Linked DNA regions of Homo sapiens. The protein of the gene in region 2 interacts with the protein of the main gene of each other region in a pairwise test. Each region holds a gene or a part of one and is shown on either strand. Other genes may lie near its edges.

The links.
Region 1: the proteins of YIPF1 (region 2) and SIGLEC12 interact in binary tests that used the Homo sapiens proteins (3 or more experiments, as listed by UniProt).
Region 3: the proteins of YIPF1 (region 2) and ERGIC3 interact in binary tests that used the Homo sapiens proteins (3 or more experiments, as listed by UniProt).
Region 4: the proteins of YIPF1 (region 2) and JPH3 interact in binary tests that used the Homo sapiens proteins (3 or more experiments, as listed by UniProt).
Region 5: the proteins of YIPF1 (region 2) and SLC71A2 interact in binary tests that used the Homo sapiens proteins (3 or more experiments, as listed by UniProt).
Region 6: the proteins of YIPF1 (region 2) and RETREG3 interact in binary tests that used the Homo sapiens proteins (3 or more experiments, as listed by UniProt).
Region 7: the proteins of YIPF1 (region 2) and TLCD4 interact in binary tests that used the Homo sapiens proteins (3 or more experiments, as listed by UniProt).

The regions. Positions count from the first base shown.
Region 1 is NC_000019.10:51,491,801-51,495,300, forward strand, and holds part of SIGLEC12 (sialic acid-binding Ig-like lectin 12 isoform a precursor), read right to left. Parts: intron 30-3,500; coding exon 1-29. UniProt on the Homo sapiens protein: Putative adhesion molecule that mediates sialic-acid dependent binding to cells. The sialic acid recognition site may be masked by cis interactions with sialic acids on the same cell surface.
Region 2 is NC_000001.11:53,876,298-53,879,797, reverse strand, and holds part of YIPF1 (protein YIPF1), read left to right. Parts: intron 1-1,075; coding exon 1,076-1,156; intron 1,157-1,395; coding exon 1,396-1,483; intron 1,484-3,500.
Region 3 is NC_000020.11:35,552,078-35,555,105, reverse strand, and holds part of ERGIC3 (endoplasmic reticulum-Golgi intermediate compartment protein 3), read right to left. Parts: intron 735-3,028; coding exon of another isoform or gene 720-734; intron 63-719; coding exon 31-62; intron 1-30. UniProt on the Homo sapiens protein: Possible role in transport between endoplasmic reticulum and Golgi. Positively regulates trafficking of the secretory proteins SERPINA1/alpha1-antitrypsin and HP/haptoglobin.
Region 4 is NC_000016.10:87,640,508-87,644,007, reverse strand, and holds part of JPH3 (junctophilin-3), read right to left. Parts: intron 1-3,500. UniProt on the Homo sapiens protein: Junctophilins contribute to the formation of junctional membrane complexes (JMCs) which link the plasma membrane with the endoplasmic or sarcoplasmic reticulum in excitable cells.
Region 5 is NC_000009.12:94,451,069-94,454,568, reverse strand, and holds part of SLC71A2 (hippocampus abundant transcript-like protein 1), read right to left. Parts: intron 3,114-3,500; coding exon 3,042-3,113; intron 612-3,041; coding exon 499-611; intron 1-498.
Region 6 is NC_000017.11:42,599,375-42,602,874, forward strand, and holds part of RETREG3 (reticulophagy regulator 3), read right to left. Parts: intron 1-3,500. UniProt on the Homo sapiens protein: Endoplasmic reticulum (ER)-anchored autophagy regulator which exists in an inactive state under basal conditions but is activated following cellular stress.
Region 7 is NC_000001.11:95,193,855-95,197,354, reverse strand, and holds part of TLCD4 (TLC domain-containing protein 4), read right to left. Parts: 3' UTR 1-3,500.

The DNA.
Region 1 (3,500 bases), on a different chromosome or scaffold from region 2:
TCATCTGCCGGGGATTCAATCAGGGGTCCCTGAATGGAGGAAGAGAAGGGAGTCAGTGCAGAGCAGTGGGGCCAGCATGCACCAGAGAGCATCCAGGAAGGAGGCCCAGGAGTTCCTTCCTCCATTCATCCCATGTGCACTTTGCTGAAATCTCTTTAATACGTTCCTCTAATGTCTAATACTCAATTATCACCTTATGTGGTGTTTACTAATCTCATTAACTTCCAACAACAATTCCATAGTAAGATATTATTATTGTCTCCATTTTATAAATTTGAAAACTGAGGTAGAAATGGTTAAGTACCCTGCGCAAACTCCCTCTTATACCGGGACCCAATCCAGTCAGTTCCTTCTGACCCCAAAGCCTGGAGTCCTGCTGAGGCCTCCTGTGTGTGAGTTCCTGGGCTGGGTGCTGGATGGACTGTGGTGGACACGGTAGGCATGGGCTCTGACCCCCTGCATCTCACTCTTTAACTGAAGGAGGTGGCAATAAATGACTGCCAAACAAATGAATATCTATGTGTGAATTATGATAAGATGGGTAGGAAGAGGGCAAGTGAGAGAGAATTACAGGGCCTTGATTCAGACGTGGCACCTGCCCTTGAGAAGCTCACAGTTTGGTGGTGTGGGGAAGACAAGTCAATAAAATAAATTATATCCCTCTTATAGGAAGAATAATGACCCCTCCAAAATGTCCATGCCCTAATCCCCTGGAACCTGTTGATCTGTTACCTTACATGGCTAAAGGGGCTTTACAGATGGAATTAGGTTAAGGATATCGAGATGGGGAAATTATCCTGGATTACTTGGGTGGGCCCAGTGGAATCACAGGGGTCCTTACAAGTAGTGAAAGGAGGAGGGCATAGATAGATTGGAAGATGCCAGGCTGCTTGACTTGCAGACAGAGGGAGGGTCCTGAGCCAAGGAATGCAGGTGCCTCTAGAAGCTGGAAAAGGTGAGAAAGCGCATCCTCCCCTGGATCTTCCAGAAGGAACTGGCCCTGCCTGCCAATGCCTTGATTTTAGCCCAGTGACACCCATTTTGGGCTTGTGACCTTCAGAACTTTAAGTTAATCCATGTTTGTTGTTTGAAGCCAGGAAATGTGTGGCAATTTGTCACAGCAGCCACAGGAAACTAATATAGACTCACACGGTGGAGAGTGACAGAGGCTGCCTGGGAGGCTTCTCCTTCATCTCTGAACTTCCCTGCTACTCCCCTGCACAGCAGATGCTCCATGGAACTGTTTGTGATTTCACTCCCCCATTCTGTCTTGATTACTCAAATTAACATTCACACACACACCACATCTCAGCACTGCTGTTATCAAGGTCACCATGACCACTGCTTGGCTGAGTCCAAATGTCCGTCTTGCAGTCTTCTCCTTCTTGGACTTCACAGCAGCAGAGGACCCAGCTGCTCACCTTCCCTACACAGAAGCCCTTCTTGACTTAACTACAGGACATCGTGCTTTCTGGCTCCATCTTACCTTCTTGGCAGCCCTTTTGCTAGATGCTCCACATCTCCCTGACCCTAAATATCAGAGCAGCCCTGAGCTCTTCTTTACTTTTGCTTTGCAATCTCATCCACTGTGTTGTCTTCATGCCATCAATAAACTGACGACTTCCAAATTTACACCCAGCCCTCTCCCCTCTGCTGACTATAGTCCTTGATCCAATAGTATACTTCAAACCCACACATCTTGTCGAAAGGCACACAAAATGCAACCTATTCTATCTGAACTCCTCCTTTTTTCCCCCAGATCTCTTTTTTTGCACAATCTTTTCTGCCTCAATGACTGACCCCTCCATTCTACCCATGGATTGGGGCAAAAATCTGGAAGTCTTCTTGCTCCCTCTCTGTCATTCACATTGTACACCCAATCTATTGGCAATTCTCATAAGTCTAACTTCAGAATTTACCCATAAGACAGCCATGTCCACCACCACTGCCATCTTGGTTCCAGCCAGCACCACTTCCTGCCTGAGATGTTCACCAGCCTCCTCTCTATCTTCTCTGCTCTGTCTTTCCTCTACCACACACAGTCTCTTCTGCACACAACAGCCAGAGGGATCCCATGAAAATAAAAGTTAATCATGGTCTCTTGCACAAAACTCTCCAAATGCTCACAGTGCCCTGTGCAGCCAGACACGATTCACACACAGGCTCAACTTCTCCAAAGTCATTTCCTGTTCTTGGCCTTGCTTCCCTCTGTCTAATCACACAGACGTCCTTGTGGATCCTCTCACTGGTCCCTCCTGTGCCTGAGCCTCACCCTGTTCTTCCCTCTGTCTGGAGTGCTCTTCAATCTCACAGTCAGTGTCAGATCTGAGCCTCCTTCATTCCTGTGCTCAAACATCACTAACAGAAACACAAGTCATCCTACAGAATGGTAGAAAATATTTTCAAGCCATACATCTGAAAAAAGTTTTAATATCCAGAATATATTAAAAAAATTCTTAGAACTCAACAGCAGAGAAACAACACAGTTTCAAAAATAGGCTTAAACTCTGATAGACTTTCTCTAAAGGTGATATACAAATCAAAAGAAGCATATGAAAACATCACTAATTATTAGAAAATGCAAATCAAAGCCTTAATGAGATATCACCTCACACGCGTTAGGATGGCCACTGTCAAAAACAAACGAAAACCAAAAAGTAACAAGCGTTGGTGAGGATGTGGAGAAATGGGAACCCTTGTGTGACATTTGTGGGAATGTAAAATAGTGTAGCCACTGTGGAAAACAGTATGGCAGTTCCTTAAGATATTAAAAAACAGAATAATCTTAGAGTCCAGAAACCCTACTTGTGGATATACACCCAAAAGAATTAAAAGCAGGATATTGAAAAGATATTTGCATGCCCATGCTCACGGCAGCATTATTCACAATAACCAAGAGGTGGAAGCAACCCAAGTGTACATCAACAGATAAATGGATAAAGAAAATGCGGTAAACATACACACAATGCAATATTAATTACCCTTTAAAAAGAAGGAAATCTTGTCACACCTTACAATGTGGGTGAACCTTGAGGATATTTGTTAAGTAAATCGTCCAGTCACAAGATGAGCAATACTGTATGATTTCACTTATATGAGGTATCTAGAATAGTCAAATTCATAGGAAAATAAAGTAAAATTGGTGATTTCCAGTGGCTGCAGGAGGATGAAGAGGATGGGAGGGAAAGGGCGGAGTTATTGTTCAACGAATGTGGAGTTTCAGTTTTGCAAGATAAAAGGGTTCTAGAGATCTAGCACAACCATAAACTTAATAAAGTTGAGGTGGTAAATTTTATGTTATGTGTTATTTTCCACCGTAGATGGCTGGATGGATGGATGGGTGGATGGATGGATGGACGGGTGGGTGGGTGGATGGATGGATGGATGGATGGATGGATGGACGGACGGGTGGGTGGGTGGATGGATGGATGGATGGATGGATGGATGGACGGGTGGGTGGGTGGATGGATGGATGGATGGATGGATGGATGGATGGACGG
Region 2 (3,500 bases):
ACCGCTTTCACTCCTCTCTGTGAGTGCTGCAGACCACAGCTACTTCTAATCGGCCATCCGTTTTCCTTTATAATGAACAAAAAATATCTGCCTATAGCACCTGCCCTTGTCCTGCAAAGCAGCTCAGTGTTCACCGTACTTTTTGCTGTATGAATTCCCTTCGGATATCTGAAGATGACAGGCACAATTCCTGGCATTGGGCATGCATTCTGCCACCAAAGAGCTGTGTTGTTGGGATGGGTATGGCCCTCCTCAGGTGCCTCTTCTCAATAGGATTTTTTTTTTTGTCAGAGTAGTAATATTTTTAGTACTTTAGAGTGAGTCAATATATCAGATTTTTGAGAATTCAGGTGGCAATAGTAGGGAGGATTGTGGATGGATGGGGGAGGAAGAGATATTTACACTGCTGGATGCAGTGGCTCACGCTTGTAATCCCCGTGCTTTGGGAGGCTGAGGCGGGAGTATCACTTGAGCCCAAGAGTTTGAGACCAGCCTGGGCAAAATAATGAGACTCTGTCTCTACAAAAATTAAACAATTAGCTGGGCATAGTGGTGTACGCGTGTAGTCCCAGCTGCTTGGGAAGCTGAGGTGGGAAGATTGTTTGAGCCCAGGAGTTCAAGGCTGCAGTGAGCTATGATTGCACTACTGCACTCCAGCTTGGGAAAGAGAGTGAGACGCCATCTCAAAAAAAAAAAGCGAAAAGATATTTACACTGACTGCCTTCTGTATGTGTTGTATGTGTGTATATGTATTTATTATTGTACATAATTCTATATACTGTTGAATCTAGATAAGGGAACTAAGCCCAGCAGGAGTCTAGTGATTTGCCAAAGCTCCCCTCAGTGGAGGGGCCAGGATTTGAACCCTTTTGGTGTGACTTCAAAACCAATGCTTGTTTTTCTAATCAGGCTGAGAGTTGCGAATTGGCTATTTCAGAGTTGGTTATTGAATGTGGAAGAGCCTATTGTTTCAAACGTTTTGCTTTTCCATTAGATCAGATCCCTCCTGCACCCCACGCAGCTGGAATTAAGAAATTGCTTATGTGTTCATTATGTTTTATTTTATTTCTGACAGTTACTTGCTGGACAGAAGAAAAGCTCCCCCTTCTGGACATTTGAATACTACCAAACATTCTTTGATGTGGACACCTACCAGGTTTGGAAACCAATTTCACCTTTCCTTTTACGGGTAAAGGAGACTTGTTTCTTTAATGGTTGAACAACCAAATAATGTGAAAGCCTTTATATACTGAAAATGGTCTTACAAAAGTAAAGGGTTATTAGCATTTGAAAATACTATCATAAAAGCTCTAATGACTGAGTTTCAATTTTGTAGTAGTTGAATTTATTAAACTTAAAAAACTTCAGTAGAATTACTGCTATGATGTTTTCCAGGTCTTTGACAGAATTAAAGGATCTCTTTTGCCAATACCCGGGAAAAACTTTGTGAGGTTATATATCCGCAGCAATCCAGATCTCTATGGTATGTTTAGTACTGATTTGTTTACCGTATTTCAGTTGAACTTGGGTGAGTGTGAGGGTTGCCTGGAAATGTGGAGAACTGCACTATTGGTGGGGCATGCCATGTATTATTAGACTTTTCTGAACTTCAGTAGCAACCCTTGCAAGTAATTTTGGAGGAATACAATTATGTGTTATATTAGTGCCACGTCATCATTACAAGTACTAGTATATCCTTCAAAGGTCTTTAAATGGGGCTGAGCGCAGTGGCTCATGCCTATAATCCCAGCACTTTGGAAGGCTAAGATGGGAGGATTGCCAGAGGCTAGGAGTTTGAGACCAGTCTGGGCAACATAGCAAGACCCTGTCTCTACTAAAGGCTGGGTTGGCACAGTGGCTGCCGCCTGTAATCCCAACACTTTGGGAGGCCAAGGCAGGAGGATTGCTTGAGCCCAAGGAGTTTGAGACCAGCCTGGGCAACATAAGGAGACCCTATCTCTACTAAAAAATAAAAATAAAAAGAATGATTTTTAAAAATTCTTCAAATAACTTTACAACTTGAGACAAATTTAGTCACTTTGACTAGGTGGAGATTGGACCATTTGATGTTGGAGGAGAAGGTATTCTCACACTTTTTCATTGATATGCTGAGTTCCAGCTCTGCCCTCAGATGAGCTGGCTCCTTTTAGGATTTGGTCACCAGCAGTGGAAGTCTAAAACAGGATTGGGCCGGGGATTGTTGTCATCCCTGACCTTAATGCTGTCTGAGAAAAACTCAGAGGTCCACCCAGTACTCCTGAGGAAAAGGCCCCAACAGTGGCCTGTGTTTGAGGGGAGAAGAGAGTGCTGTCCGTGTGCCAGGTGCTGTACCAAAGACTGTGTGTGTACTTGATCATATCTCATTCTTGCAACAACCCTTGCAAAGTATCCCCACTTTTCAAATGAGGAAGCTGATGCTCAGTGAGGATCATTGATATATATGCTCAATCAGAAATGATAAATAGTAAAGCAGTCATATATGTTGATTTTAAATATGGACTCTAGGGAGCCTGGTGTGAAAACCATTGCACTGGCCCATGCTTTTCATCTGAGGGTTGTCAGGGTGGTTTCTCTGTCTCATTCATTCTTACTTGTAGCCTGAGAACATCCTGAGGGGCAGGCTCTGTGCCTCAGTGTCTTTAGTGCCTGGCAGAGGCCTTGGCACACAGCAGGTGCTCAAACAATTTTTAGCACCTTATTTTATGCTAGACTCTGTGCTAGAGGCTGAGGATTTAAAGATAAGGCCATGGTCCCTAGCCCCAATGAGGAAGAAGAGAGAACACTAACATCTGTTGAATACCTTATAAGTGCCAAGCGTGGAGATAAGCACTATTTTAGTATTTTATGCTATTTTATTTCCCATACTCCAAGGTAGCCTTATCTTACAAAAGAGAAAACTGAGATTAAGGAGATAACTTGCCCGTAGTTACAGAGTTAGCAATAATAATGGCAAACACACATATAATGCTTATTATGTGCCAGACACTATTATTAGGGCAGTACCTGTATTAACTCATTTAATCCTTATGCCAGATCCAACTTCATGAGGGAGATACTATTATTATCCCCATTTTATAGATGAGGACACTGAGTCACACAGAGGTCCAGTAACTTGCCTGAGATTATACAGCTAGTAAGTGCTGGGCTCAATTTTCAAATCAACACTGTAGCTCATAATCCATTTCTTCATCACTATGCTATACTGCCTCTCATGACAAAGCCAGGGCTTGAATCCAAGGCTTGCTTCTTTTCTGTGACACTAGTAGCCTCATTAGCTCATAGACGTGGTTAAAAGAAGAAGGTACAATATAGGTGAAGTGTTTGATAGCAGAGAGGATTAGGTTTTGTTGTGGGTGGAGGTTAGAGGAAGGCAGTTAAGAAAAAGATGACAATTTACAGAGTGTAAGGAAAAGATTGATAACTTTGACTACATTTCACCTAAAATTTAAAATTTCTACACAACAAAATAAACCATAAGTAAAGTAAAAAAATAAACCACA
Region 3 (3,028 bases), on a different chromosome or scaffold from region 2:
TGCCCTCCATGGTTTCCATCTGGTACGTACGTTGTCAAGGCCAAAGCTCTGCAAGTCATGGACTAGGAGAGAAGGGAGAAGGCAAGGGAGAAGGCGTCATTAGTAGGAGCAGCACTGGCCTCCTCCTTCCTCCCCCTGGACTGCAAACCACCTGTCTTCTCTGCCCCTCATTCCTTCTCCAGCCTGGCACCTCCTGGTCCTGCTTAAGGACAGCCAGAAAGGGCAAGCCTTGGGCCTGTGTGAGAGTTCACGCCCTCCTCAGGAGTCTTTAGAACAGACCCTGGTTCCTCCCTGACGTCCACAGGGAACTCTATGCCTTGACTACCACCATGGCCCTGCCTGCATCTCCGGAAACAAAACCCACCGACTATGGGCTCTCACTAACTAGAGCTGATGGCAAATCACTGAACCTCAAAGTGAGGTGGGATCTGAGAATGCCATCCACACTTTCCCTGCCTCCACCCTCAAAGCTCCCCAGAAGAAATCCCATGGGGACCCTGTACCAACTGTTCCAGAACAATTTATTCCTGCCCTCTAGCCTCAATCCCTCCTGCTGCAAGGAACCATACTTCAAAGATACATCCCAGACCTTTTACAGTCACCCAGCAGCCAGGTCAGAGGAGACCCAATCACAGCCCCATCCAACCTCCCCGCCATTCTAGTAGGGCAGGCTGCCCCAGAAGTAGGGGTTTGGCCTCCATGGGGGCAGGGCCACTTACTCTCCACAGCATGTACTGCAGCATGGGGGAGGGAGGAGAGAGAAGAAAGATTCAGAGCTTCACAATGAGAACTATGAGAGCAAGATATGTTGCAGGAGGGAAGACTGGAACATTCAGCCTCAGCAACACAGTCTGGCCCCAGCTAACAAGCCTCCTTCTGGGCCCCTCCTCGAGAGTGAACTAATCTGGCCAGAGAGGAGCAAAATAGTGGCCTAGAAGGACAAGAGGCCTAGAGCTCAAAGAGCCAAGTTCCTGACTGTGTGGCCTTGGGCAAATCAGTTGCCCTTTCTGGGCCTCAGTGTTCTCCTTTGCAAAGGGCTGTCCTAAGGATCACGTGGGATCTAAGATGGAAAAATACTTGTAAACTTTACACTGTAAGAGATTATTACCCACCCCAGCCCCAATCAACAAGGATGTTAGAAACTCACTCCCAGGCCTCAATTCAGCCAGATCTCTGGCCTTGGGCAACTGTACCTTTGCATTTATACATCCTTCCAAATACAGAGCACCCCCGGCCCGGGGATCCACAAGTCTAACAGTCCCAGGCCAAGAGGCTGCCACTCTGGCTGTGTGTCTACTGAGTGCCCGCCAGACCTTGTGCCAACAGCTTGACACTGATCATCTTCCTGCCCTCCCAGCAAGACCCTTTTCTCCCAGCTTCCTCCAGAGTGAAGAGGGGGTCCCAGAGCTCTGCAGGGTCCTCCAGCCCCCACACTGGCCCCTCCCCAACACAGCCCCACCCCCACAGATTGCCCTGAAGACCAGCAGAGCTACCCTCCAGGGGGCCCTTTCTTCCTGTTCACTTCAACCATTTTGAGAGGCCATCTTCATACCCTGGGCTCTGTCACTGTGCAGCTCTGTCCATCCTTTACTGTGACACCAACTCCCACCTTCCCCAACCCTGCCTTCAACCCCTGGGTTCCTCTTCACTTTCTTGCTTCAGCCTGGCTCTTCCTTTCAGGCACTAACTCCCTGGCATCCCCTCAACGTGCGACTATCTTCTCTCCATACACAACCTCTTCCCTGGCCTAAAGAGAAGTCTTTCTTGCTCCTTACTGCCACTTCCAGATCACTTTCCCTTTATCTGCCTTAAAAATGCACAATGGCTCACATCTGTAATCCCAACATTTTGGGGGGCCAAGCGGGAGGATCACTTGAGCCCAGGAGCCTGGGCAACATGGCAAGACCCTGTCTCTGCAAAAAAAAAAAAAAAAATTAGCCAGGCATGGTGGCATGTGCCTGTGGTCTCAGCTCCTTGAGAGGCTGAGGTGGGAGGATCTCGAGTCCAGGAGGTCAAGGCTGCAGTGAGCCAAGATTGTGCCATGGCACTCCAGCCTCAAAAAAAAAAAAAAAAAAAAAAAAAAAATCCCCAGCTTTGAAGCTCAGGGCAAAGCAGCCCTGCTTGTTTCAGTCACCTAGATATCGATATGGAACCTCCAGAACAGTTTTCCCATGCCATTTTTCAACAGCTTGGGCAACTGCCTGTCACTCTCTCCTGTACTACCTCTGTCACACGTTCTAGTGATTTCCATATCCACGTAGATGATCCTTCCAGTACCCGGGCCTCCCAGTTCCTGGACATCCTTTCCTCCCTGATCTTGTGCTCTGCCTACCCAAGCCACTTGCTCTGTTGGCCATTCCCTAAACTTTGTCATTAACAAAGCCCCTTCTGTGACTTCAATTTCAAGCAACTCATGCTCCACCAGCTTTCTAATTTCCTCCAGTTCCCCAATTCCAATAACTTGTTGACACTACACTCAGGACTTGTAGTCCCTTTTTCCTCCTGCCCCCTCACTGGCTTCTCCACATCCTGTCTTTCCTCCTTTCCTAGCTCATATGCTGTGGTCCAGAATCAAGATGAGTTCTTTACATATTTGACTCCCTCACCTTTGCAGGCACCTGGCAACACCAAACCCCATGCAATTGCAATGTTCTGTTGACTGAGTCCATTCCCACACAGACAACCATGCTGACCGCTCTCTTTGCATTCACAGCCGCGGACTCCAGGGAGGCCCTAGGGCTGCATCAATCCTACTCAATCTCCCCAGTCCACGCACTCTTCCACCCCCAAGTGACCAGTCACATCTTTTCTTCTTTCAAATCTCCAACACCTCCTTCCCTCTCTCCTCATTCTCAACTGAGGACCTTCCTTCCTACAACACGGAGAAGATGGGAAGACTCAGAAGAGACTCTCCATGTACTTCTGCCACACCAGCTACCACCCTACCTGTACCTACAGAGCCTGCCCTTCCTCCTGGTGCTAAGTTTGGACTTTCCACATATGTAAGGCACTAGATTCTGTCTTCTTT
Region 4 (3,500 bases), on a different chromosome or scaffold from region 2:
CACCACCATGCTCCACTACTTTGTAAATTATTTGTAGAGATGGCAGTCTCATTATGTTGGCCAGGCTGGTTTCTAACTCATGGGCTCAAGTGATCCTGCCTCAGCCTCCAGAAGTGCTGTGATTACAGTCATGAGCCACACCACTCCTGGTGTGCTATCTTGATGAAACCTGGTGAGGTTTGCGTGGAGGCAGACAGACCATGGTACCTTCCTACAACTTCTATCACCAGTGGCTGTTTTTGAAGACACCTCCATCCTGCTTCTCATGGCTAGATCTTGTTCTCTCTTGGAAATCGGGGAGGGAGAAGGGAGGCATCAGAGTCTGTGGTGCAGAGTGAGGACCACAGAACCCAGAGTGAATACGGAGCCCCTGCCAAGGGCACAAGGAAACGCGTCCTGGGTTAGGAGGCTAATGAGTGGCAGCTACAGGGACACAGGTGTGGGCTACACACTAAGCCCTGAATGGGCTGCTCTGGGAGACAGTGAGCTCCCCATTGCTGGAGGTATCCAGGAAGACCACACAGTGGACACACCATGGAAGAGATTCAAGGGCATAGGGAAGGGACAGTGGCCCATGACCTTCAGACATAAAATCAGCAGACCTGATATCCCCAGAAGAAGGGAGGGTGGGGACTGCAGCAGCTGCCTGTGCACCTGGGTTCTCAGCAGCACTGTTTCCATGGCTGGAAAGGGAAAGGCAACCCACAAGTCCATCACCTGGTAAATGGACAGACGCCATGCGGTCCGTCCATACGATGGAACATCATTCAGCCTTGAAAAGGTAGAACATTCTCACACAGGCTGCAATGTGGATGAACGCTGAAGACATTACACAGAGTGAACTGAGCTGGGCACAAAAGGCCACATATCGGATGATTCCATGTACACGGGGTCCTTAGAGTAGTCACGCTCAGAGATGCAGAAAGCGCGGTGGGTGCAGGGGCTGGGGAGGGTTGTGGGGTCAGTGTTGAATAGGGACAGAGTTTTGCAGTAGGATGATGGGAAAGCCTTGGAGGTAAACAGTGATGACAGCTACCTAACACCGTGAAGGTAATTAATACCACTGAATTGTATACTTAAAAGTAGCTAACGTGGTACATTCTGTATTTCTCTTACCACAATAAAATAAAAAGGAAACCCGGTCAGCAGACCTGGGCCCATGTCTTGCTCTGTGAGCTGTGACTCAGGGAAGTTTCTGGGCCCCGCTGGCCCTCAGTGTCCTCGTCTGTAGAGTGGAACCAGGACTCCTCATGCCAAAGGTCACCGTGAGGACGGCTGGGCCTCAGCACGACGCCCAACGCGGCAAACCTCAAGCCTCATTTGTCATTTGAGCTTCTCCCTGCAGCCGGGCACTAACGGCGTGGATGTGCCACCCTGGAAAGGGCTTTTGCGGGGAGAACAGAGTCCGTCCACCACTCTTCCAACTCACGGTGGCACAGGCTGCAGACCAGAGGCCTGGAGGCCGAGACTTACTGATACGTAGGTTTTATTCGTCCCACCGCTGTTTTCATAAAACATTGGAATTACCTGCTAACAACTCAAAACCAAGAGATTTGACATAAAAATTCAGCTCTCTTCTGTCTCCTGAAAAATGAGGACCTGGCCACCCCGACCTCTCTTTTCAGAGGACAAAATGGACAGGAGCTGGCAGCAGCTGCTCCTGTTCTGCCAGTCACTTTTTAAACGGAGAGGCTGCAGCGGGTGGCAGGTGCCGCCATCTCTCGGAGCGAAGCAGCCCTCCACTCCCCACTGCCCCCCCCCTTTCCCTAGCCAGGCCCCCTCCACTCACACGCCCCACACCAGAGGGTGGGATCCAAACTAAGTGTGGAATTCAAAGTCCTGTAGCCTCAAGTGACCTGTCCGTCCCCAGGGTATCCCCACACCCCGCCACCTTCACCCGCCACCCCCCAAAGGGTCCTGATCCTTCCAGGCTTTTCTGTCCAAGGCTCTGTTCACGCTCTCTCCTCTCTCACACTCCCACCCTCCAATCGAATCCCATGGGCTCCAAGCCAGCCCCACCCCTCCTCCACAGCACCTCCAAGCACCCCAGGGCCCGGGCCCAGAGCCCCCATGCCCGGCACCCGCGGCATCCAGACTCAGGACAGTGGCTGGGGTCTTAGATGTTCCAGAATGTATCTTCCAGCTCAACCACATCACGAGCCCCCAGAGGGACTTGTGTTGCAGGCCCCTCACGCCCCATGTGGCATATGGCCCAGCCAGGGCAGAGAAGGGGCGTGCAAAGATCACCAATCAGGCTGCAGCCCCGGACAGAGCCCCTGAGGCTGCCTCACTCCAAGAGATGGTGGCACCTGCCACACGCTGCAGCCTCTCCGTTGAAAAAGGAATCGGCAACGCAGCCTCTGAGGGCAGCTTCTCCAGGAGCAGAGCCTGAGCTGGGGATCCTGTGAACGTGACTTATTTGGGGCTGGAGAAGGGGGGTACCAGGAAGAAGGACGTGGCAGCAGAGGACGGGGCCGAATGAGGTGGTCTCAGCGAGAGGTCAGCTTCAGCCTCGTCCCACTTTCAGGCAAGGGGATAGGATGTTTGGGATCCCACACTGGTCGGTCATTCTGTACCCCCAAAGCTGCTTGGGGAGGCAGCTAACCTGGAGGCAAGTCCACTGCCATCAACGTCGGAAACAACCTCACTGCCATCAACATCAGAAGCAACCTCACTGCCATCAACATCAAAAGCAACCTCCGACTCCAGTGATGGGGCTCCTGCCCTCCCACCCACTAGGCTGTGGCACCTTCTCCTACAGGATGCCAAGAGCCGGGCAAGCAGGGATGTATGTGGACCGGACCCCAGGGACCCCACAACACCACTGCACACCTTTCCAGAGTGTCAGCCTCAGCCTCTTGCCCAGAGGTCCCAGCACTGGGGGCAGTTGTGATGGGCACGGGGAGGAGGCAGAGGGGGCAGCTGACTCGGAACCACCCGGCACCCCAATGCGAACCACACTGGGGGGAAACCCTGTGGCTTGCTCCACACCCGAACGCCCTTCCAGGCTGGGGTTGTGAGGAGGAAACTGGAACTAGGCTCGGTGGGTCTCAGGGGGTGGCCCTTTACCAAGGCCAGACCCGCCCACACAGTGGCCTTCCCATGGCCAGTCCAAGCTGGACACAGGCTGCCATCACAGGGACCCTCACCCCAAGACTGCACCCTCAGCGACTGCCCCTTCCGTGCCAGGGCTGTGGACAGGGTTGTCACATCAAACACAGGACGCCTGGTAACATCTGAGTTTCAGATGAACAACACATCGTTCTTTAGGGGACACGCTGCATGGGACATACTTATATTTAAAAAGCGTTTGTTGGCTGGGTGGGGTGGCTCATGCTTGTAATCCCAGCACTTTGGGAGGCCGAGGCGAGCAGATCACCTGAAGTCAGGAGTTAGAGACCACGCTGGCCAACATAGTGAAATCCTGTCTCTACTAAAAATACAAAAAAACTAGCTAGGCATGGTGATGGGTGCCTGTAATCCCAGGTACTCAAGAGGCT
Region 5 (3,500 bases), on a different chromosome or scaffold from region 2:
CATGGTGAAACCCATCTCTACTAAAAATACAAAAATTAGCCGGGCGTGTGGTGAATGCCTGTAATCCTAGCTACTCAGGAGCCTGAGGCAGGAGAACTGCTTGAATCCGGGTGGTAGAGGTTGCAGTGAGCTGAGATCATGCCACTGTACTCCAGCCTGGGCAACAGAGTGAGACTCCGTCTCAGGGAAAGAAAAAAAAATTGGCATATGCTTTAAAAAGTAGACATAAAACTTTATTTGGGGGCTGGAGGGAAGAGAGAGATACATTCAATTAAGGAACAATTCCGTGAAAGTCCAATGACATAAAGGTAGTCTTTATAAATAATCCTGTTATCTAGCTCCACATTTCCCCAAATTAAAGCCTAATGGTTTCTGCAATGTTGAATACACCAAACCAGCAAAATAACCCTTGCTTCCTTCTCATCACACCCAACCACCCCAAGCTCCTCTAAGAGGCATCTGTCTGGCAGTTCACGAGAATCTAAGAGTGAGGCTTACCAGGCCTGTGATCCAAAACCGTACCAGGCTAACTGGAGCATCTGGAAGCCCAAGCCAAGGAGGACAGTATTCTTATTTCCTAATGATCTCATCAAGATGCTAAGAAAGGCCGTCTGCAAAGTAAAGGAGACAACTCTGAAAAACCACATCAACACACAGAATTAAAATACAAGCTCTGTGTGTGAAGACCCTTCCCTGATGACCAGAGACCTCTAAGGGCACACTGCCTGACCTGCAACCTCAGAGTCTGGACAGTACTGATGACCTTCTACAGGGGTGGAGTGTTGGGGGCTCCCAGCCTGACCTGGGGCTCAATGCTTTCAGCCTCCTCCCTAAGAAGCCTGTCTACCTGGTGCTCTGCTGGCACTTCCTGAAAGGATATCACAACTGTTCACCAGTTACCATGACTGAGAGGGACAGCCTCAGTCTCTGGAGAAATACTAATCACTTAAATATCTGTGAATAGCAAACTCCTGCTGAACATTTACAGAATATGAGAGCTTCTGCTGGAAGTTTACAAAGTTGGAATTGGGATGTAAGTTTGATTTTAACAAATATATACTCTGCTAAATATAACTAGTTGAGAAAGTCTAAAAAGGGGTTGGATGAAAGATGACTGGGCTGGCCGGGTGTGGTGGCTCATGCCTGTAATCCCAGCACTTTGGGAGGCCGAGGCAAGCAGATCACAAGGTCAGGAGTTCGAGACCAGCCTGGCCAGCAGGGTGAAACCCTGTCGCTACTAAAAATACAAAAATTAGCCAGGCATAGTGGTGCACACTTGTAGTCCCAGCTATTTGGGAGGCTGAGGCAGTAGAATCACTTGAACCCGAGAGGCAGAGGTTGCAGTGAGCCGAAATCATACCACTGCACTCCAGCCTGGGTGACAGAGCGAGACTCCGTGTCAAAAAAAAAAAAAAAAAAAGATGGCTGAGTTTATGTTTGATTTTGTAAAAAACCAAAATGATCAACTTGAAAGGTTAACATAATTTACATTTGCAACACATTTCAACAAAAACAAAAATATAAACGGCCTTTGTTTTGATGCATTCCCATAAGCCTTGTCAAATGTAGTAGTTTTGCGGCCTTCTCATTTCTCCTTGAGAGAGGTTACCACAGAAGAATGCTCTGCTTTCCTGGTAACCATTTCAGGGAAAACAACCCCTAGGCAGTACCATAAAATATAGTGAGTGTGCCTTGGCACAACAGTGAATTAATTTAAGGACAATATGCTTCATCTTTTCTGGTACTGTATTTACAATAGATAGGGAAATGGTTAATGCTCTCTACTCACTGAAAATCATTTATCAATACCTATATATAATAGATATTTATATATAATATCTATTATATATATATGAATATATATGAATATATGAATATATATGAATATATGAATATATATGAATATATATGAATATATATGAATATATATATGAAAATATATATATATATATATTCTCCCTCTCTCTTTTTTGAGATGGAGTCTCACTCTGTCACCTAGGCTGGAGTGCAGTGGCGCAATCTCGGCTCCCAGCAACCTCCACTTCCCAGGTTCAAGCGATTCTCCTGCCTCAGCCTCCTGAGTAGCTGGAATTACAAGCACATGCCACCACACCCAGCTGATTTTTGTATTTTTAGTAGAGACAGGGTTTCGCCATATTGGCCAAGCTGGTCTGGAACGCCTGACCTCAGGTGATCCACCTGCCTTGGCCTCCCAAAGTGCTGGGATTACAGGTGTGAGCCACCGTGTCTGGCCCTCACTGAATATGTTTTAATGCTCTGATTCATATTTCTTCAGTCCTGGGAACAGTCGGAGTTAAAGCAGTTACAGATTTTCATTTCTGCTTTTCATTTCTACTTACTTTTCAACATTAAAATAACACTGAACCATTTTCCTAGTTGATTTTGCAATCCAGAGATAGATTATAATTATTTACTATTTTGGTTGGTGTAAAAGCAAATAAAATAATTGACCCAGCAGAGGTTACGACAAATATTCTAAAAAGTAGGGAAAGTTGTATCAAAGTTCTCCTAAATCATCTTTTCTGAGAAAACACTAAATGGCAGATGATGCTGGTGCAAGGGGAGCACCAGAGGCCCCCAGGGGCCTGGGATGGGGAACCACTGTGGCTTCCGAGGAGACTTAGGCAGTGGCATCGGGGCCAGGGCCCCTGAGCTGAGGAGGCAAGGCTGAAGACAAGAGTGGATGCCAGTCACCAGGCTGGGCTGCCTGGTCAAGGATATAATTTTAAAAACATTGTTTTAAATAAAAACATAAAAAATTTCCCCTAAATTACAACCTCAAAAAAGAAAATAACCTCTACACATTATATAAGAAGGAATAGTTCTGTGGACCACATTCACATCAGTTTCTTGATCTGATATTATACTATAGCTTGCAAGACCTTACCATAGCAGGGGGTGAGGGACTGAGGTAGCAGCTCAGGGAATATCTTCCTGCATTTTTATATGTGGCTTCCTGTGAAACTATGGTTATCAGGATATTTTTTAAATTTTTTAAGTATAGATAAAATGATACTCACCTGAGCCACAATAGACAGAATTCCTACCATAGCTATGAATGCTGCAATTTTAACAGATCCAAAACCTATGACCTATGGAAATGAAATGAAAACACTTTAGTAATATAGATATTATAAAATAATAAGAAATATTATGTTCTATTACAATGATAAGTCTAGGAAAATTCATAAAACCAGTGGCAAATTAAGACATGCTGAAAGCTGAACCTATATAACCAGTAATTTATATCTAAAACTGATGTAAGAAATCGTTATAAGCAGGCACAACTTAAATTGTGAAATGTTTTATAGACATTTTCTATTATATGTCTACCTGTTGTTTTATATACCCTCTCCATCCCCAACCCACAAGTTGATAAATATGGTATCAAGTAATAAAAAATGAAACAAAATGACTGACTTTTGATGCTGCCAATACAGCATTGCTCATTAGCAAAGCCAGTGGCTCTCAACTTTGCC
Region 6 (3,500 bases), on a different chromosome or scaffold from region 2:
CTGGGCACAGTGGCTCATGCCTATAATCCCAGCACTTTGGGAGCCTTAGGTGGGTGGATAACCTGAGATCGGGAGTTTGAGACCAGCCTAGCTAACATGGAGAAACTCCATGTCTATTAAAAATACAAAATTAGCCGGGCGTGGTGGTGTATGCCTGTAATCTCAGCTACTCAGGAGGCTGAGGCAGGACAATCGCTTGAACCCAGGAGGCAGAGGTTGCAGTGAGCTGAGATTGTGCCATTGCATTCCAGCCTGGGTGACAGAGTAAGGCTCCGTCTCAAAAAAAAAAAAAAAAAATTATACAACTAACATGAATTCATGTTTATCGAAAAAAAAGTACAGGCATGGTGGCTCACGTCTGTAATCCCAGCACTTTGGGAAGCCAAGGCAGGTGGATCACCTGAGGTCAGGAGTTCGAGACAAGCCTGGCCAACATGGCGAAACCCCGTCTCTACTAAAAATACAAAAAATTAGCTGGGCATAGTGGCGGGCACCTGTAATCCCAGCTACTCAACAGGCTGAGGTGGGATGACAGCTTGAGTCCGGGAAACTGAGGTTGCAGCGAGCCGTTATCGTGCCACTGTACCCCAGCCTGGGTGACAGAGCGAGACCCTATCTCAAAAAACAAAAAAGCAAAACAGAAAAAACCACCTAAACACTAACAAATTGGTTTGTGGGGAAAAAAAGAGTTTAAAAAAAAAACAACAAATAAAACCACACACAACAGGCCACATGTGGTACCTAAAGCCTGTAATCCCAATACTTTGGGAGGCCGAGGCAGGAGGATCACTTGAGTCAAAGAGTTTGAGACCAGCTTAGGCAACACAGCAAGACCTCATCTCTACTGAAAAGAAAAACATTAGCTAGGTGTGGTGGTGCACGCTTGTACTCCCATTTACTTGGGAAGCTGAGGTGGGAGGATTGCTAGAGCCAGAAGGTTGAGGTTGCAGTGAGCTCTGATTGTGCCACTGCACTCCAGCTTGGGAGACAGAGCAAGACCCTGTCTCGAAAAGAAAAAAAAAAGTATCATTTATGACATTTATAAGAAAATTGGAAATGTGAACACTGACTAGAATCATTAATTTTTTGCATGTGATAATGATGGCAGATGTTTCTTAAAGTCTCTTTTTCAGAAAAATATACTGAAATACCTAGATTAAATGATATGACACATCAATAATTTGTGTCAAACAATAAGGAAGACGTAGAAAAGAACTGGGGTATGGAAGACACAAAATTGGCCAGGAATTGAAAAAAATAATATTATGTACATGGTGGCACACAATATTATTCTGCCTACTTACACATGTTTTAAGCTTTCCATAATAAAATATTTTTAAAATGATCCATTATCCACATATGTACTCTAAAAAGTGTGAAGACAGGCTATTCTCTTCATTAAAAAATTCACATATAAAAACACTATGGTTTTAAAACTTTTTCACATAATACATAGACAATTAGCCTGATGTGGTGATGAACTCCTGTGGTCTCATCAGCCATGAGGTGGAATGATCACTTGAGCTCAGGAGTTCCAGGGTACAGTGAGCCATGATCACACCACTGCAATCTAGCCTGGGTGACAGAGTGAAACCTTCTCTCAAAAAAAACAATGAATGGGCCAGGCGCAGTGGCTCAAACCTGTAATTCCAGCACTTTGGGAGGCTGAAGCAGGTAGATCACTTGACATCAGGAGTTCAAGACCAGCCTGGCCAACATGGTGAAACCCCATCTCTACCTAAAAATACAAAAATTAGCTAGGCATGGTGGCGGGTGCCCGTAATCCCAGCTACTCAGGAGGCTGAGGCAGGAGAACTGCTTGAATCCGGGAGGCGGAGGTTGCAGTGAGCTGAGATTGTGCCACTGCACTCCAGCCTGGGCAACACAGGAAGACTCCATCTCAAATAAAATAAAATAAACTAAGACGGTGGCTCAAGCCTGTAATCCCAACACTTTGGGAGGCTGAGGCAGGCAGATCACGAGATCAGGAGATCGAGACCATCCTGGCTAACACGGTGAAACCCTGGCTCTACTAAAAAATACAAAAAATTAGCCGGGAGTGGTGGTGGGCGCCTGGAGTCCCAGCTACTCGGGAGGCTGAGGCAGGAGAATGGCGTGAACCTGAGAGGCGGAGCTTGCAGTGAGCCGAGATCGCGCCACTGCACTCCAGCCTGGGCAACAGACAGAGCGAGACTCTCTCAAAAAAAAAAAAGAAAAGAAAAATAAACGAAAAATAAACTAAGAAGGTTCCAACTTTTTTTTTTTTTTTTTTTTTGAGACGGAGTCTTGCTCTTGTTGCCCAGGCTGGAGTGCAGTGGCGCGATCTCGGGTCACCACAACCTCTGCCTCCCAGGTTCAACGGATTCTCCTGCCTCAGCCTCCCAAGGTAGCTGGGATTACAGGCATGCGCCACCATGCCCGGCTGATTTGGCATTTTTAGTAGAGATGGGGTTTCTCCATTGTTGGTCAGGCTGGTCTTGAATTCCCGACCTTAGGTGACCTGCCTGCCTCGGCCTCCCAAAGTGCTGAGAATTATAGGCATGAGCCACTGCGCCCAGCCAAAAGTTTCCAATTTTTTGATGTAATAAAAGCTGAACTATACATCACTGAGCATGTTACTGGGTCAAAGGCATTAACTATTTTAAACAAATAGCTTTATTGGTCGGGCACCGTAGCTCACACCTGTAATCCCAGCCTTTGGGAGGCCGAGGCAGGTGGGTCACTTGAGGTCAAGAGTTCAAGACCACTTTGGCCAACATGGTGAAACTCCATCTCTACTAAAAATACAAAAATCAGCCAAGACATGGTGGTGCACGCCGGTAGTCCCAGCTACTTGGGAGGCTGAGGCAGGAGAACTGCTTGAATCTGGGAGGCAGAGGTTGCAGTGAGCTGAGATCATGCCACTGCACTCCAGTCTGGGCCACAGAGTAAGACTCCGTTTCAAAAAAAAAAAAGTAAGAAAATAGCTTTATTGAGATAATGGTTTGTATACGATAAAATTCTCTTTCAATTCATCTGCCAGCAGCAGAGATGAAAAAAAAATCACAATGCTGTACGACTAATAGCCTTATGTAATTTCAGAACATTTTCATCACTCCAAAAGAAACCCATACCCATTAGTATTCTTTCTCCATTTCCCCCAGCCCTGGAAAAGCTTCTTAAGTGGCTTAAAATATGTTACCAAACTACTTGCTAGAAAGGCTGTCCAATTTATGTTCCTATCAGCCATATGCCCATTTTTCCATATTTTCCCCAGAATTAATTATGATCATTAAAAATACTTAAGGCCAGGTGTGGAGGCTCACACCTGTAATCCCAGCACTTTGGGAGGCCAAGGTGGGTGGACTGCTGGAGCCCAGGAGTTCAAGACCAGCCTGGGCAACATGGTGAAACCTTGTTTCTACGAAAAATACAAAACAATTAACCAGGTGTGGTGACACACACCTGTAGTCCCCACTACCTGAGAGGCTGAGGTGGGAGGATGGCTTGAGCCCAGAGGT
Region 7 (3,500 bases), about 41 Mb from region 2:
AAAGTATACAAACATTTCAAAATTTTAATGGAAATAACTTAGACATTTATTATCCCTCCAAATAAAACAACCAGGAAACAAAATAAAGAATGCCAAGTTGCTATTTTAAGTACTGATAAGTCCTAGTAACACTGATTCATACATTATCTAGTCTTACATTTTGTAAATAAAAGTTCTTCAGCCTTATGGAAATAAATTAGAAGGTATGTTCTCAAAATGGTATTAAGTATATTTTGAAAGACTTCCAAAAATCTTTGACAATTATATATTATACATTCTCAGAAAAAAGTATATATCTATGTATCTATATATATCACTATAGTTCTATTTACTGCTTTCCAAGTAGCTTTTTCAAATAAAATCTAAAAGTCATTATTATTACAAATTCTAATACCAAAAAATCTCATAACTTATCCTATTTACAAGTTAGTGAGAGTATTATCTACACAAAATTCCTTAAATAAAAAGTAGACATAGTCATACCAGAAACAAACCAAGCAGGAAACAGAAAAACACAGAGCACATTCTATATACAGCTATACCTTTAGGCTTGTTAAGTAGCAAATAACCCTAATGTACACTTAATTACAGAAATAATTACATAAAGATATAAAGAAAAAATATCCAAAGATGTTTAACGAGTTTTCAGCCAGAGGTACTGTACTTATAAATCTTTGAGATTTAGAAATATTTCTGGTTTTGGTCTTATGTATAGGGCCTGATATCAAAATGGTCCACTGCTTAGAGTGAATAAGTGTAAACATTTTCAAAGCAAACAAACCAATCTTTAGGAGCTGCTTTCAATTCTTCACTGCTATCCAAAATATATTCCAATAAAGGTATGAATTATTATCAAAACTAGAGGCTGGCCTAGTCTGGCCTAGAAACGGGTAAGGTTCAAGCCTTGGATGTTGTACTTTGGAAAACACCAAGTAACGCAGTTGCTGGTAAATTTGTTTTCAAAGAAACATTACCATAGCAAAGTTTTCCCTAAAGAGCAGGACTCTAAAATAATTTTGGCACAAGCCAGCATCCACCCTCTCATAACACAGAGTTATCTCAGTTCCTCTGTGCTCCTGTCATGGGGTCTAAAAAGAACATTTAGATAATTTACAAGCCTATAATAAATCTTCAGCTGAAACACATTACAAAGCTCTGACTGTTAAACCAGTTTAAGAAAAACAGAGATGACAGATCTCTTAATAAAACCATAACATTATTAGCTTTGCCTCATGTTGTAAACAGTTATTATTAAATGCTGAATGGCTTCCTGTAGTCTCTTAATAAGTCATGATTTGTCTGAGCTCCACTTTAAACTTTACTACAATGCTTTTTTTCAATGAGAGAACCTATTTGTAAACTTTTAAATTTGCCATAAGAGACTGGGAAGCTTATAGATACATGGGGAGGTCTCAAAAGTTGACAGCGAAAGGTGTTAGCATAAAAGAGGGAGATGCTGATGAAGTCATCTGGTGTACCAGGAGGAAGAGATGGAAGGATTCAAAGAGAATACTTCTAGATCAAGGGAGGACTATCACGGCGTTTAAGGGAAAAGCACTCTCAATGCCTCCTCTAACTCCAGATCCTCTAGCTTTTCATTGTTCCTACACACCTCACATGTGTTTTGCATCAGAACTCACTTTCAGTAGCTTTAATGTATTTCAATGAGCTGTGTTTAAGGTTGGGAAGATATATGTGCATCCAGAGACACATGAAGGGTCTCGCTGTATGCTGGCTCGCACCTGAGAAACACTGTGCTACTCTTGATAAAATTATCTAAGTTCAACTTCTTATGGAATCCAAACACATAAAAATACATAAACCTTTATGAAGTATTATTGATGATGTCAATACATGAACTTTTCCATTTCAGCTAATAGACTAAACCACCTAAAGCTATTCAAATGCACATTTATTTAAATGTTTGGAATTAAGAGCAACCTAGAAACAGAAAACGTGTTCAAATATTTATTTTAACAGCATCTTTTGGAACATGTTTATTTCCCTTAAAAACGACACAGAGGAAACATGTACACTGTAACAACACCTTCCCCTCTGTTTCTCCAGAAGAAAAATGTTTCTGCATGCCTGATAACAGATGGTGCAACCAACAGTAAACCTGGCTCTCTACACCAGTGAAGAACCATTCTCCAAATGCCCAGTGTGCCTCAGAGGAAATATACAATTTAAAAGTTGACCCTGTAGCAAAAATTTTGAGTCAAATTATTAAAATTTAGAAAAGAACTGGATTCAAATACTTACAAACTAGGCAGTTTTTAAAACTAGACCTTTAAGACCGTCCTGGGTCATCCATAATATATCAGAGTCACTCTTAGGGGTGGTAACAACATAAATAGTATTTCACTTAACGTAAGGCTAGTCCATGAAATAATAAAATCAAACAGTTGGGATAAAAATTTAATTCAATTTACTGTAGGGTATCAACACATATTTGAGCAGAAGTCAATTTCTTTGCACTCATATATAACTTCATTTCCAGTTTTACATAAATGCAAATAATCCTTTAAAAGATTTTAGACATAAGAAGGCAAACTTTATAAGTTATAGCTCATAATTTTCAAATTTTCACAAATAAAAATTTAATGCAGGATCTATGATCTTGCATGCTATTAGTTGGTTTTCATTCATTTTTTAAGTTTCACAAGAACTTTTATTTTCTAGGATACTACACATTCAAAAAACATCTTTATAATTACAGGTTATCTTTTTTCTACAAAAATAGAATTGCTCAAAAATTTATATCAATTTGCTTTTATTTTTCTATAAATATTTTAATAGAGTTGTTAAATATCAGAATGCCTGATAGAATCATTTAAATTAATCCGTGTAGTCAAAATACTTAATATTTAAAATGTCTAGCAAACGTTTTTCATTTAATAAATGAAAAATTCATCGTGCAGTAAATGATATGTTCTGTCTTCATTTGTATTTTAGGTAGGTGAATACAATCATAGAACAGCAAAGTGTACCTCCTGCAAAGGTCAGACTTAAAAGTAGCAGGGCAGTTTCTAGTGGCATTTCCATTCCATGTCTGTTGTATGAGGAAATATATAGAACCTACTTCAGGATATTTAATCTGGATGTTGAATTAACTCATGCAGCCAGCATAAGATAAGGATTGCTGAATAAGAGAATCACAAACTTTAGTTCAAAATTTTGATGTTTTAAATATACTTATTTAGTGAGTGGCTATACCAGTGAAGGGTAACATTAATGAAAGTAAGAATGAAGTTTTAAGCATGAAACAGTAACTATAAAAACAAACTGCTACATGGAGACTCACTAATATAGCTTTATATTGTTTTCATTTTGATAGTGGGTTTAAAATCTGTGTTCAGAACTATAGAAATATCCAGAGTCAAAAAATATTTATCTCAAGGTCTCTTTCTAAAAGAATGAATTTCCAAAATAGTTTTATTATATAAATTTTTTTAAAGCCACTTTTCCTGCAAAAAGGTAAGAACAAGATAAAACCGCTT